Linked DNA regions of Homo sapiens: region 2 is linked to region 1. Evidence: fine-mapped expression QTL. Tissue or cell type: whole blood. Region 1 holds a variant in brackets; the other region holds the start of a gene. All regions are shown on one strand. Distances are from middle to middle.

What was found. PIP is the estimated chance that this variant, and not a neighbour inherited with it, causes the effect.
Region 2: NEIL2 starts here. The variant in region 1 is fine-mapped to the expression of NEIL2 in whole blood (INTERVAL, PIP 0.90).

The regions. Positions count from the first base shown.
Region 1 is chr8:11,795,376-11,800,676 of GRCh38, forward strand. The region is part of intron 1 of LOC105379243 (a long non-coding RNA gene); the gene reads right to left. It also overlaps a transcript of FDFT1 not described here. Among named protein-coding and RNA genes, the nearest start is that of FDFT1, 4.7 kb to the right of the region's middle. RefSeq lists enhancers at 1-159, 4,640-5,283 and a silencer at 4,928-4,987. The variant G/A (reference allele first, on the strand shown) is at 1,912.
Region 2 is chr8:11,767,646-11,771,645 of GRCh38, forward strand. It overlaps NEIL2 (nei like DNA glycosylase 2), which reads left to right and starts at 2,065. Exons shown (of 5, transcript NM_145043.4): 1 at 2,065-2,690; 2 at 3,801-3,940. The coding sequence starts at 3,803. It overlaps LOC124901888 (a long non-coding RNA gene), which reads right to left and starts at 3,805. Exons shown (of 2, transcript XR_007060824.1): 1 at 3,233-3,805; 2 at 1,157-2,763. RefSeq lists silencers at 1,876-2,285, 2,326-2,455 and an enhancer at 2,215-2,715.

The DNA of each region.
Region 1 (5,301 bases):
TCTGTATCTAGCTAATCTAGTGGGGAGGTGGAGACCTTTTATGTCTAGCTCAGGGATTGTAACCGCACCAATCAGCACCCTGTCAAAACGGACAAATCAGCTCTCTGTAAAACAGACCAATCGGCTTTCTGTAAAATGGACCAATCAGCAGGGTGTGGGTGGGGCCAGATAAGAGCATAAAAGCGGGCTGCCTTAAAAAAAACGGTGGCAACACGCTGGGTTTGCTTTACAACGCTTGGGAAGCTTTGTTGTTTGCAATAAATTTTAATACTTGTCTGTTTCGGTCTGCACTGCCTTTATGAGCTGTAACACTCACAGGGTAGGTTTGCAGCTTCACTCCTGAAGCCAGTAAGACAACGAACCCACTGGGAGAAACAAACAACTCCAGACGCGCCGACTTAAGAGCTGTAATACTCGCTGTGACGGTCTGCAGCTTCACTCCTGAGCCAGCGAGACCACGAACCCACCAGAAGGAAGAAACTCCGAACACATCTGAACATCAGAAGGAACAGACTCCGGACACGCCGCCTTTAAGAACTGTAACACTCACCGCGAGGGTGGGCGGTTTCATTCCTGAAGTCAGTGAGACCAAGAACCAACCAATTCCGGACACACTTGGACTCGACAGACTCTAAGGTGAAAGATTGGTTTAGTTCATGAGTTGGGGTTTTGTGATAACTGACATTGTGAAAAACGGGGGATTTAACATAGATTTTCACAGTGGCTTTAGACATTTCATAAATATTTCTTAAATGCCTCCTAAATGCTAGGATTTGGCAATACAAGGCTAAACAAAATACAAAGCCAAATCCTACTGTAATGGGAGTATGTAAAGTGTTTCTGTTAATGGAAAAAGTGCTGTGTGAGGATGGGGGTTAAGTGACTGGACTGTTTGTGTTCTGAGCTTTCTAGGACTGATCTGATTACGCTGTAAACACTCCGCCAGATACTGTGTAGGCCCAGCCCTTGTGCTTGAGGGGGCCACTGTGAGGTGGCGAAACAGACAAGAGATTATTAGAATACAGAAAGTTCAGGTTGGGAGGAACCACTGAACATGGTAGAAGTACTGAGGTCTGTGAAAGTAAAGATCAGCCCAATGAACACAAACAAATAAGGTTCTTGATTCGGAGCTTGCTGTAGTAAGGGAGTTTTGTACTTAGTGGACACTCCGAGGCAGGCAGGGGAGTGGGAAGCTTTACGGTGGAAAAGGGGAAGGCTGCAGCAGTGCTCTGATTGGAGGCTTCTGGCCTGGGGAAGTTGGAAGCAGCTGATAGAGGTAGGTGTCTTCAGTGATTGGTTTGAGGAGCCTATTTGTTTTTCTGTGGTTGATTCTGAGTTGCAAGAGTCCTGACCATTTGGGGCTGATTGCTGCTGAGGTTGTGGTTTTCTTGCAGGACAGGCAAGCCCCAAATTGGGCCTTAGCCCATGAGGGTTCCTGGCTTTACCCAGGAAAGAATTCAAGGGTGAGCCAGTGGTAAGGTGGAAGAAAACAACTTCATTAAAGAGGCAGTGTGACAGCTCCGTGACTTTTCCTGCAGAGTAGGGCTGCTCCGCAGGCAGTGTGCTGAAAGCAGCTCAGGGCAGTTGTGCAGTCAGATCTATATCTACTTTTAATTGCACGCAGATTAAAGGACAGTTTCTGAAGACATCTGTAGGAAAAGGGTAGTAACTTCTGGGTTGTTGGGTCATTGCCATGGAAAGGGGTGGTAAATCCTGGGTGTTGCGATGGCAATGGTAAACTGACATGGCAAACTGGTGGGCGTGTCTTAAGGACGGCTGCTTCGGCCCCTCCCTGTTTTAGCTAGTCCTCAATTTGGTCGGCTGTCTGAACCCCACCTCTGGAGTCGAATCTCGCCTTCTATCTCATTTTGAGTTCCTTGGACTGCCTGCAGCAGCGGTTGTTTAAGCCAT[G/A]GTTCTGTTATATAGTGTCTGGCTGTTATCCATTCGTATGTTCAGCTTCCAAGTGGACACCTAAGTCAGACTGAGGGAGCTGGATTAGGGGCTCTCTAACAAATAGCACCATCACATAACATGTCTGTTTCTTCCTCTGCATTGTAAGCTCCTTGGGTGTGGAACCTTATCTTACTCATCTTTGTTTTTTCCCATGTCTCCTGCCACATTGTAGATGTTCAGCCAATGTTTGTTGCATTTAAAGAACAGATAATCACAGCTACTAGGGAAGCTGAGATGGGAAGATCCTTAATCCTAGGAGTTTGAGCCAGCCTGGACAACATAAGACCCTGTCTGTCTCTCACACACACTCAAAAAAAAAAAAAAAAAAAAAAGAAACAAACAAAAAAAACGGTGGGGGAGGGGAACAGATAAAGGAGAGGCCAGGAAACACCAGAAAAGGATTCCTGAAGCAGATTCCACCTGAGCTGTAATGGAGGCGTGGCAGGTGGCTAGGCAAGGAGCAGGAAGCCTATTCCAGGCAGGTGAATTGCTTGGGCCAAGGCCGGATGTGAAGTACTGTAGCCTGTTCGGGGGACAATAAGTGCTGCTAGGACTGGATCAGGGTGTGAAAGTAGTACAAGAATGGGTGGACAGGAGGCTGAAATCCCAACAAAGGATGTAGATGCCAAATGGCAAGGACGTTTTTATTCTATGCCAGAAGGCTTGATTTCCTTTAAATCAATCCATTGATTCGAAGACATTTCATTGGAGGAATTTAAAATGGAAGGATTATAATCAAGTGTGTGTTTTTATTTTTTATTTTTTTGAGACGGAGTCTCACTTTGTTGCCCAGGCTGCAGTGTGGTGTGGTGATCTCGGCTCGTGGGTTCAAGCGATTCTCCAGCCTCAGCCTCCCGAGTAACTGGGATTACAGGCACCCACAACCACGCTCAGCTAATTTTGGTATTTTTAGTAGAGACGGGGTTTCACCATGTTAGCCAGGCTGGTCTCAAAGTCCTGACCTCAAGTGATCCGCCTGCATTGGTCTTCCCAAGTGCTGGGATTACAGGTGTGAGCCACTGCACCCAGCCCAGTGTGTGTTTTAGACGAATAACTCTACCTGCCATATGGGAAAGGACAGGGGAAGTCAACTTCAACATGGTTTGGGAAAGAAGATGTGGCTTAAACCAAGATGGAGCAGAGAGGAGAGATTAAAATGAAAGGTATTTGTTTTCTTGGACTCCACAGGACTTGATGAATGATTTTGAAGGGGTGGATATAAGGAGAGAAAGGGCGTTATCAATGACACCTGGATTTTGTGATTACAAAACTGAGAGGCTGTTAACGCTATCCACAGGAGAAGCAGATTTAATGGAAGAGAGATTTAAAGAATGGGCACGTTAACTAACTTTGCATTGTTTAGGCACCATCGTGTCCTATACGCAGCTCAATTCAATAAATACTCATTGAGCACCCAATAAATATTCATTGAGCCAGTATGTGCTGGGCACTATTCCAGATGGTTGAGGGGACATTAGTGAGCAAAACAAAGGTGTGTCGTCACTGAGCTTAGATTTCTAGTGTTGACTTAAAAAATATGATTTATCAATTTAGAAAGGGAGAAGAGCCTTTATTTCTTCTAAAGGGTTACAGCATGCTTCCAGCTTAGACCACAGACGGGCACTTTGAAGGAAAAGGCGTTTGAGGTAGGAGCTTTATGCTGACTGGGTTGGCTAAACGTACATATTTAACAGATTACAAGAGGAGCTACGAATATTTATGATGGCGGACCTGACACATTGAACAAACATGTATGTAATATATGACCCATATTCACTTTGGGATAGAGACTCAACATGTGAATGCATTACAATTACACCCTATAGGTCAAAAGGTCTTTTTAGGACAGGAAGGCGCCTTGAGTGTACAGTTTCTGTAAACTGGCCAGACCAGTCCACGGTCGGCGGTCTTATCAGGAGAAAGTTACTGAGATCAATCTCTTGACCAGTCAAAGCTGTAGTTATGGCTGGTGGAACAGGGGTTCAATTAGTCACTGTCTGGTGGAGCTGCAGGTGTTTTACTATTGCTTATCTCAAGGCCAGCGTTTAGCTGCTGGAGAAAAAGAAGAGCCCTGTGGCAGTTAGAGCTTAGTTGATTCTTCAAGTGTAGGGGTGCCTGACTTCACCATTGCCTGCATGGCCTTAGGTCCTGTTTATAATTGGGTATCTTATTGCCACAGAGTCTGTTCCGTTAGTCTTATGATCTCTGTTTTAATGTTAATGCCAGCCAGTTGTGTATGAACTCCAAAAGGAAGGGGGTACAATGAGGGCTATCTGATCTCCTGTCCCGTTATTTGAAATGCTTTTTCCCTGGTGCTGGAAAGAAATAGCACTTGTAGGCTGGGAGCCGTGGCTCACGCCTGTAATCCCAGTACCTGGGGAGGCTGAGGCGGGCGGATCACGAGGTCAAGAGATTGAGACCATCCTAACCAACATGGTGAAACCCTGTCTCAACTAAAAATAAAAAAATTAGCTGGCCGTGGTGGTACATGCCTGTAGTTCCAGCTACTCGGGAGGCTAAGGCAGGAGACTCACTTGAACCTGGGAGCCAGAGGTTGCAGTGAACCAAGATCGCGCCACTGCACTCCAGCCTCACGACAGAGTGAGACTCCATTTAAAAAAAAAAAAAAAATGAAGAAGAAATAGCACTCGAAGGCTGGGCGCAGTGGCTTGCCTGTAATCCTAGCACTTTGGGAGGCCGAGGAGGGTGGATCATGAGGTCAGGAGTTCAAGACCAGTCTGGCCAACATGGTGAAACCCTGTCTCTACTAAAAATCGAAAAATTACCCAGGCGTGGTGGTTGGGCGCCTGTAATCCCAGCTACTCGGGAGGCTGAGGCAGGAGAAGCACTTGAACCCAGAAGGCAGAGGTGGCAGTGAACCGAGACTGTGCCACTGCACTCCAGCCTGGCAACAAGAGTGAAATTCTGTCTCAAAAAAAAAAAAAAAAAAAAAAAAAAAAAAAAGGCGCTTGAACATTAATTTACTAAGCAGGCCATTTTTACTTCCTGCAGAAAGGGTACACTCGCCAGCAGTTTTGCCATGGGAGTATACCAAACAAAGGAGACAGGGTCATTTATAACCTGACTCGTCCACCCCACTGCTTGTGTCTAGTTTCCATTGGCTGGAACGGTGCCTCACGTTCTGTATTTGTCCCGATTGGCTAGCAACTTAGAAGTTTTTAAAAGAGGCAAAGGTAGAGGAGAACAAAGGAAGGAGGAAGTAACTTGTGGAATGGTGACAAAGGTTGAAACACCTTCAAATAAGGAAGAGGAACAGGCTATGACCTAATGCTTTCTTGGACCACTATAAGCATGCCAGGGCAAATATTTAGGCTAAATTGTGAGAGC
Region 2 (4,000 bases), 28 kb before region 1:
CTGGGCATGCTTGTGCGTGCCTGTAATCCCAGGTACTTGGGAGGCTGAGGCGGGAGAATCCCTTGAACCCAGGAGGCAGAGGTTGCAGTTAGCTGGGATCGTGCCTGGGTTGCACTCCAGCCTGGGCAACAAGAGTGAAACTATGTCACGGAAAACAAAACAAAACAAAAATGTGGCCCCTAGACCACAGCATCAGCGTCACCCAGCAGCTTGCTGGAAAGGCAACATCTTGGGCCCTGGTATAGACCTTAGAATCTGCATTTAAACAAGGTTCCCAGGGGATTCATAGGTACATTGAAGTTTGAGAAGCGTGGCTTTGTGATATTTCTATAATACCATTTAATAGATATCCCATTTAATGAATGAAGTCAGAGATACTGTGACTTGCTTGTATCCCCACAACTAATAATGAAGCAATATATGCAAAGAGCTCACAACAGTGTTTTGCACATAGTACGCGCTCAATAAACAATAACAATCAATGACAGAGCCAAGCTGTGAACCATGAGATTTTCAATTGCATAGCCCCTTAGCCTCAGAAGAACCCCTTTAGGCACCAGGCATTCATTCCACCAGGTAAGGCGAGGACTGTGGCTACGGCTTCCCTCCCGGCTCAGCCACTCTACAGAAAGAGAAACTAGGGGGCCCAGAAGCTACCATTGTGGTGAGCCTGATCCTATAGCAGGGGCATCCTGGGGGTGGGGGGGTCGTTATTCTCCAGAAAAGGCCGGACATAGAAAGAGGGGGACCAGAGGCTCTTCAAGGGATGCCTCCTGCAAACCCCATGCCCTCCAACCTCATCCCCTCTGCCTCCAGATGCCTTTCTAGATGAGGACCCTATACCCTAGGCCTCCCCAGGCCTCCCTCTCCTCACCTCCTGCCCTAGCCTGTTCAGTAGGTGACCACTGTGGGAAGGCCACTTGTAACCTCCCTCTCAATCAGTAGGACACAACCATGTCTCTGACGGTGGGCTGGGCTTGTTTCCCTGTGCTGACCAAGTCCTTCCCCAGGGACCCCTCAGCTAGGGTCCATGGTGACTTCACCCCAGCCTATTTCCTGAACACCTGCTGGGGAGTTCCCCAGACTTTCCTCCCAACTTCCTGGAAAGTGCTGGCTCCCCATCCTCCTTCGAGAACTAAAGACAAGAAAACATATGTATCTTTAAACAGCCTATTGTTTTATCTCTTTTATTCTATGAAATAAAAAATTTAATACACAAATACTTTAAGCAAAATTTGCTTATAGTAAAAATTCAAGTAATAAAATTCAAATAATAGAAAGCAAAAAAATCCCACCCGTTCAACATTTCACGAGTCTTGAACACCTGTTTCCTTTGCACCCGACTTCATTAGGCTCGGAGGCCAAGCAGAACCCACAGAAAGGCTTGCCATTGTGGGAACACCCAGGCTGTCCCATTCACACACCCATTGACTTTTCCCTATAACTGTCTCCTTGAGACAAGAAATGTTCCAAAAGGGCCGGGTGCGGTGGCTCACGCCTGTAATCCCACCACTTTGGGAGGCCGAGGAGGGCGGCTCACCTGAGATCAGGAGTTCAAGACCAGCCTGGCCAACATGGTGAAACCCGGTCTCTACTAAAAATACAAAAATTAGCCGGGCGCCAGTAATCCCAGCTACTCGGGAGGCTGAGGCAGGAGAATGGCTTAAGCCCAGGAGGCGGAGGTTGCAGTGAGCCGAGATCGCGCCACTGCACTCCAGCCTGGGTGACACAGCGAGACTATCTCCCCCCGCAAAAAAAAAAAGTTTCCAAGAGCGTCTCTCCAATGTTAGTCCCAGCCTGCACCCTTCTTCCATCCCTGCTTTCACTCGCGACCCTCTAATGCAGCCCTGCCTCCAGCGACCCCCGGGATGGAACCCCTCGCCCACCCACAAAAGAGCAGCCTCGACCTAGACCCACTTTCCAGGGAATGAGCCCTGCGCCTGCGCGCACCCCGCCACCCCCTCCAGGCCGGAGTCCACGCCCACTTGGGGGAGGAGCCCCGCAGCCTCCACCTACAGGGGCGTCCCCTAAGGGGACGGAGGCCGCATGGGCCGCCGAGCCGGGAAATCTCCGCCCCCAGCTGGAGCGGCTGTGCGGGCTGCGTAGCGGTGCTGGGTCGGGCCGACGTGCCACCCACCCGGAGCCGGTGAGTGCAGCCGCCCGCCCTCCGGTAGATCTGCGGCCTGGCGGAGAAGTCGGGAGGGGACAGGAAGGGAGGGCGGGCCCCGGGCCCTCCTCCGTCTCAGCCGCCTGCGGAGGTGCTGCCCACGCCTGGAGGCCCCCACTGACCCTCAGACCCGCGTCTGCGCCCCTCTCCCCGCACCCCGAGGCAGAGTTGGGAAAGCAGTGGTCTTAGACCCCCCACCTCGGGCACTCGGAAGAGAACGGCGGAGACAACCCCTCCTCTTCCCTGGCTGGCGCAGCGCCAGCCTCGAGCTCCTCGGTAGCCCCCGGGCAGGGAGGGCCGGAGGGTGGGCGCGGCATCTTCAGCGACTCTTCGAAGTCCCTTCCGCGTCTCATCTTTCAAGGCTGTTGCAGAGGCGGCTTGCTTCCCACCTGTCCATCTCCATAAAAATCCCTAAACGAAACATGCCCACGTGTCCGGAGATTTTCAGGACTTGGTGCATTTCAGATGAAGGCTTTTCCAGAAGCTTCCCCGTAGAAGAGGATCAGGCATCCAACTGGTTAAGGTCAGCAGCGTTTGGCACGTCTCCTTCCAGCCTGGCGGTTTTGTCAGGATTCCCTGGGGAGTGTCTGGAAAGCCTGATGAGGGGAAATAGTACATCTCAGCGAATCGGCACCAGCGAGTGTAAGATGCGCGTTATTGAATGTGCTGCTGCCGAATATGAGAATGCCGAGATTGTGAGCCGTCACCATTTCTTAGATTTTAAAAGTATTCTAAAATGTTTTTTAGAATCACTGAAATATAATAGCTACCCCCTGCCCGATATCTACTTAGTTCTTTTCGATTTTCATCATAACTTATAGAGAGGCTGGTGCAGGAACAGGTGGTTAGGCAGCTGCCCCGGGTGAGGCTGGGAGTCTCCTCTGCCCGAACAGCCCGGGTGTACACCACTCAGACTGCCTCATGTAGGCGGCTGTCAGTGGACTGGGATGATTTGGGGGCAGGGAGAGTAGAGGTGGCCCTGGGAGCCCTGCGTGGTGATTAGAACAGAACCACAGCTGTTTCTCGGGGATCAGAGATAACTGTCTGTAGCTATGCCGGGCTTACCTACGTGGCTGGGGGTCTCACTTATGATTCTGAGCTCTGTCTGCGTGTTGGTCGTTTCATGCACACCTCCCCCACGCTAGTGGTCGGCGGTCCTGGAGGGCGGCATCTGGTCCCTTCAAAAGTGGGAAATAAGTCGGCAGCAGTGGGTCAGAATGGCTGTTTTTTGAGAGCGGGAGCAGGGGGACAGAGAAAGTCAGGAGGTGTTAGAGGTTCACAGTCCAGGCAAAAAGTAACAAAGGCCAGCTCCTGGTGTGGCAGGTGCCGCTCAGGAATAAAGTGGATGGTGCCCATGATGTGCTGCCTAGCACACTGTTGGTGCTTAATAAGTGTTTGCTGCATGAAGAAAGGTAAGAGGGGCTGCCTTTCCTGCTACGTTTCCCACACCCTGCCACAGCTGCTCTTCTCTATGATCTGACCGCCTCCCAGCCACACTCCCTTTTTGGCCATGCTTGCTCTTAAAGTTAGTTGGCAGCAAAAATGGCGGCATGGAGGATGCTTGGCACCTGTTAAAGATGCTAGAGATAAATGAGCTAAGTCGGTGGCCTCTTTTGCCCATTTCTGCCCACAGGGATGCCAGAAGGGCCGTTGGTGAGGAAATTTCACCATTTGGTCTCCCCCTTTGTGGGTCAGCAGGTGGTCAAGACAGGGGGCAGCAGTAAGAAGCTACAGCCCGCCAGCCTGCAGTCTCTGTGGCTCCAGGACACCCAGGTGAGGTAATACTCCTCTGAAGGGTTGGCTCTGTCGCCCATCCTGCGCCTCCCCTAGGAT